2 separate regions of the Homo sapiens genome follow, and region 1 is linked to region 2. The links come from fine-mapping of genetic effects on plasma protein levels. A gene starts in region 2. The other region holds a variant in brackets. All regions are shown on one strand. Distances are between the middles of the regions. Region 1 has its middle 200 kb from the start of BMP7-AS1. Region 2 holds the start of CASS4 (Cas scaffold protein family member 4).

Evidence for each region. PIP is the posterior inclusion probability: the model's chance that the variant is causal. Sun 2018 read protein levels with aptamers (SomaScan).
Region 1: its variant is fine-mapped to the plasma level of the CASS4 protein (Sun 2018, PIP 0.95).

The regions. Positions count from the first base shown.
Region 1 is chr20:57,013,086-57,016,001 of GRCh38, forward strand. No RefSeq gene overlaps it. Among named protein-coding and RNA genes, the nearest start is that of BMP7-AS1, 200 kb to the right of the region's middle. RefSeq lists a silencer at 1,601-1,764. The variant C/T (reference allele first, on the strand shown) is at 1,409.
Region 2 is chr20:56,411,038-56,413,953 of GRCh38, forward strand. CASS4 (Cas scaffold protein family member 4) reads left to right here and starts at 1,223. Exons shown (of 6, transcript NM_020356.4): 1 at 1,223-1,457. The coding sequence starts at 1,422.

The DNA.
Region 1 (2,916 bases), 600 kb after region 2:
TATATACAAACGTATTTTTAGCTATGCTAAGTAATTCTCTGCCATTCAAATAACATGAAATGTAACAGTAAAAATGTGAAAGCAATTTTTAAAGCTCAAAATAAGTGGCTGTGCGTTTAAAATAGTGAACATTTTCTAAGCTTATTCTAATATGACTCCCTTTAAGAGACTGTAATCTATGAAAAACCTTTGTTTATCAATAAAAGTTCCAATTCAGTTCTTTTTCACTTTGGAGAGAGTGAAAAACTAACTCATAAAATCATCATCTTGTTAATACTCTCCTCACCCTTACTAAAACACACACACTCTCTCTCTGTCTGCCAAGTTATGGCAAAATCTCCATTGCACATGGCTTAGTTTTAATCCAACACTGCTATGTATAATAATGTTTATTTATTTTTGTAAGGGCAAAAAAAATTTAAACATTTTTACAAAAGTGAATGTTTCTCTTTGATTTTGCACTCTCTCCTATGTTTTCCTTTGTTTTTATTTCCCGATTTCATTCCTTTGGTCACAAAAAAAAAAAATATGTATTTTTTGCCCAAGTGATTCTGGTCAATTTCGGTATCTTTTTCAGGGTTTTGACATTTGAGAAAACTTAATCTAGGTCAGGGAGTACCTGCTGCTGAAAAGAATCTTCTGGAATGCCATTTTGATTTGGTGTAACCTTTGTTAGCAAGTTCATGTCAAAGGTCACTGAGCACATAGAGTGCGGGGGATGGCCAAGACCTAAACAAGGGAATACATGTCAAAAGCAATTTTCCGAAAGTGCCTGCCTCGACAAGCAAGCCACCGGCCCGCGCAGTCCGGGGCTACAGAGCGCTCAAGACCTTTCCCTCGGGTGCTGAGGGAAGGATCCCCTATCAGAGATCTCCAAGGAAGGCCCCGCCTCCACCTGCCCCTCCCGCAGGAGAGCGCTGCTGCAGAATCTGCCGCCTGGCCGGTGTTCACCCAGCGAACGAGTTCTGCTCCCAGCTCGTTTACTCATGAAATTAACTGCTGCTTCGAAGGAACGGCAGTTCATGTCAAAAGCTGCACCTGAAATCTTTCACCTCTGCGTTTTCCTTCTACCTGTTTGCAATTCTCACGTTCGCCCCTCACCCTCAACTCGAATGCTGGGTTTGACCCCACTCCTAATATCTTCAAATCATTTTCATTGATAGGGCACCTTGTGTTGTAAAAACGGATTTACTTTTTAAATAGATAATTTTTATATTAGTCGATGTACAAATGTGCTAGAGAAAAAGAAAACTCCTTTCCCCCGTTCACTCCAGCCATGTGGTTGCCCTCCCCAGAGGCAAATCTATCTATCTATCTATCTATCTATCTATATCTATCTATCTATCTATCTATCTATCTATCTATCTATCTATCTGTCTGTCTCTCTATATTTTTTGAGACAGGGTCT[C/T]GCTCTGTCGCCCAGGCTGGAGTGCAGTGGCACAATCATGACCCACTGCAGCCTCGACCTCCTGGACTCAAGTGATCCTCTCAGCTCAGCCTCCCAGGTAGCTGGGACCACGGCACGTGCCACCAAGCCCAGCTAATTTTTCTATTTTTTGTAGAGATGAGGTTTCGCCATGTTACTCAGGCTGGTCCCAAATTCCTGGGCTCAAGCAATCCACCCACTTTGGTCTCCCAGAGTGCCGAGATTACAGGCGTGAGGCACCATGCCCCGCCCAGGCAATTAATATTACCAGTTTTTTATACTTTTCCAAAGATGCTTTAGGGATATGTCAGCAAATATGTGCATATAGTCACTTTTCCTTCTTTTTACACAAGTGGCAGCAAGCTTTACTCATGGTCCATAGGACACTGGATGGTGTTCTTTGGGGCATCTTCCAGCAATGAGCTACTCTCTGCAATGCTTGGTGTACGATAATCCTAGCAGCTAACACCAGGGCTTTCTGAGCTAGCACTAGGCTAAGCTTATCATGCTCACTTTCTCACTGAGTTCTCACCATAACTTAATGTGGTAGATAGTATTATTATCTCTGCTTTGCAGATGGAGCAGAATTTAGAGAGACTCAGAGGCACATTTAAGTGACATAACACACAGCTGAGTGGAAGAGATGGGATTTGAACCCAGGTTGGCCTGACCAGAGAAATCTGAACTAATTTGTTTGTCTAGAGTTCAATTTCACTCTTATAGTATGCTACGTTAGGTTAGGTTTCATTATGTTTATTGAGCAGCTTCTATGTGCCAGGCACAGTGCCAAGGCCTGGAGATACAACAGTGAACAAGAGAGAGATGGTTCAGCCCACATACAGCCCATGATCTCTGTGGGAGACAAACTTCAAACTAAGGTAGTGGGTTGAACAGAGTCCCCAATATTCATGTCCATCCAGAACCTCAGAAACAACCTTATTTGGAAATAGGTTTTGACAGAAGTTGTTAGTTAAGAAGAGATCATACTGGATTAGGAAGGGCTCTAAATCCAATGACTGGTGTCCTTCCTAGAAAAGGAGAGGACACACAGAAAGACACAGGGAAGAAAGCCATGTGAGGACGGAGGCAGAGATTGGAATGACACTGCTACAAGTCCAGTGACACCAGGAGTCACCAGGAATGGGAAGAGGCCTGGAAAGGATTACCTCCTAGAATCTCAGGAGGGAGTGTGGCCTTGCTGATACCTGGTTGCAGATTTCTCGCCTCCAGAACAACGTGAGAATGAATTTCCGCTGTTTTAAGCCACCTGGGTTGTGGTCATTTGTTACAGCAACTCTCACAAAAAAATACAGATGCTACACACACAGGTACATGGGTAAGATGCTACGAGGGATGAGAACAGGAGGCCCCTAATTTAGGTTTGGGACAGGATGTTGGGGAGGGTGGTGTCTAAATCACAGAGTGGGCCAATCACTTGCACAGGAGAAAGAATAGAATGTTCCAGAAACATGACTTTGCTAATTCTTATA
Region 2 (2,916 bases):
TGTGGGGACGACACATGGGACAACCAGAGGACAAGACGCTAAGTGCTATCTGTTGAACTTGCCTCAGAGGTGTGGTAAAAGAAAAGAAAATTTAAAAATAAAAAATTAAAAAATGCTGTCTGACAAGAAGATAGCGGTAAGCTATCCCCCACAGCTGGTTGGGGATAGAACTTGAGCCTGGCTTGGAAGAATGGGCACCATTTTGTCTAAATAAAAATGCAGGCCGGGGCCAGGCGTTGTGGCTCACGCCTGTAATCCCAGCATTTTGAGAGGCTGAGGTGGGTGGATCACTTGAGGTCAGGAGTTTGAGACCAGCCTGGCCAACATGGTGAAGTCCTGTCTCTACTGAAAATACAAAAATTAGCCAGGCGTGGTGGCGGGTGCCTGTAATCCCAGCTGCTCTGGAGGCTGAGGCAGGAGAATCACTTGAACCCGGGAGGTGGAGGTTGCAGTGAGCCGAGATTGCGCCACTGCGCTCCCACCTGAGTGACAGAGAAAGACTCCGTCTCAAAAAAAAAAAAAAATGCAGACTTATTTTGCTCAGTGTCTGCTATGCTGTAGGTCCTCTCTAGAGATTGGATCTGAATTTAGGAAAAGTAAAAAGAGTTGGCAAGTGATGATAAACTGCATGAGCTAGCAGGGGTTTCAAGTACAACACACACGATAAGTTTATTTGATTTAAGAGAGAGAATACAGGTGCGGGGCTCAGCATAGCCCTCAGTGCAGAGCCAGTACCCAGAAGATGTTATTCATTAGGTACCATGAGCAAAGACCAGGAGATGAGCATGGGGTTCCGAGCAGGGTGAATGCACAACTGACAGGGTGGGTAGAGTGGAGACTGTGTCCTTTAAGGCAGCCTGTTTGACTGCTTTTATCCTGGCTGTCATAAGGCAAGTTTTAGGGAGCAGGAAGGAAGAAATGCTGACCGCTATCAGAAATTTGGCCTAGTGGCCTCTCATCAGGGAAATGAGCTTGGTCTGTTCGGTTGGAGTTGTTCCACAGAGTTCAAAGGACAAGAATGCTGTGTGTTCATACACTGAGCTCTTCGAAGTAGGAACTTCGCCCTATAAAGCAGAAGAGTGGTGTTTTTTTCTTCTTCTTCTTCTTTTGTGGTTTCACATAGCAAATGAGTGACAGTCTCTACTTACAGACAAAGTGAGACGTCAGGCATTGAGACGTGAGTGTGGCTTGTATTTCTGGTCCTCCCCTGCTTCACTGCTTTCATTTTACTCTTATCGTGCTTTCCAGAAAGTTTGCCTGCTGGGAGAGTCTTTTTGATCGTTTCCCATGTGTTGTCAGATAGCTCCATAGAATTCAGTTTCTGAGAACCAGCCAGAAGCATGCAGTGACATTGCACAATCTGCCTCTGAAGCTGGAGATACTAGCTGCAGAGCTCAGGGGAGCTGCTCCACATCACCGACATGAAGGGAACAGGCATCATGGACTGTGCGCCCAAGGTGAGTGATGTGGGGCTGTTTGAATGGGCTCTGGCGGGGAGCAAGCTGTGATGATTAAGGGTGTTGACCAGCTTTAGTTGTGACTTTCTAATAAAGGTTGAATACCAGTGACGTGTGAGTTGGAGATGGGAAAGTTTAACATAAGTTTAAGTGTGGGAAATAGATGTGTTGTAAAGCTCCTTACCAGTTTGCATCCAAGATGGGTGAAAATGACTTTGTAGTAGAAATCAGCTTACTTGGTTGACAGCGCCGTCCATCATTTTGCGTCCAGCAAACTCCTGAAGCAAGATGCGAGTCTGCCTCAGCCCCCGCTAATTCCTTCTTTCTCTGGACCCCAAAGACACTCAGTGCCACTCTAACTGTCCTATTTGGTTTCTGTGCTCACCTCCCAACAGCAGAGCCCAGACCCTTGCCTGCAGCCTCCCGTGCTGAGCCCACAGTGGGCACTTACATGTTATTTTCATGTTAACTTGTGCATTATGTGAGCAAAGCTGGAGCTTTCAGACAGACTTCATGCCTGTCATGAATCAAAAAAGATTCACTATTTAGAAAGGTGAAAGAAGCCAGGCACGGTGGTACATACCTGTACTCCAGCTACCGGAGAGGCTGAGGTGAGAAGATTAATTCAGCCCAGAAGTTTGAGTCCAGCCTGGGCAACATAGCGAGACCCCATCTTAAAAAAAAAAAAAAGAAAAGAAAAGTTAAAATGGCTACCATATTAAAAAAAAATTTACCCAGACATAAAGAAAGTGAAGCTCAAGGTTGTGTTTTCATCTTGCTATGCCCTTTTTAAATTTTAAGTAGAACAGGAAAAAAGAAATGAAACAAGCAGTAAATGGGGAGCTTGCTTATAAAAATCAATGCTTATTTTTCATTATAATAAAAGTGACTAGTGTGGCTGTCTGCGGTGGCTCACACCTGTAATCCCAGCACTTTGGGAGGCCAAGGCAGGTGGATCACTTGAGGCCAGGAGTTTGAGACCAGCCTGATCAACATGAAAAAACCCCATATCTACCAAAAATACAACAATTAGCTGAGCGTGGTGGCGCATGCCCGTGATCCCAGCTACTCGGGAGGCTGAGGCACAAGAATCGCTTGAGCCTGGGAGGCAGAGGTTGCAGTGAGCTGAGATTATACCACTGCATTCCGGCCTGGGTGACAGAGCAAGACTCTGTCTCAAAAAAAAAAAAAAAAAAAAAAAAAAAGTCACTAGTGGAATTTGTGACTGAGTAACCCATGACAGTCTCTCTTGTATAGATTATATGTAAATATCTTAGCTACCCTAGAATTTTGTCCCCAACTACTTACTTTGAAAAATTTCAAACCATTGGAAAAATATGGGAAGCGTGGGGGTTATTCAGTAAATCCCTGCATATCCTTCACCTAGATCATTGGTTTCTGGTACTTTGTCATATTTGTGTGCATTTATTTGTGTATATTTAGACACTGGAACACACTT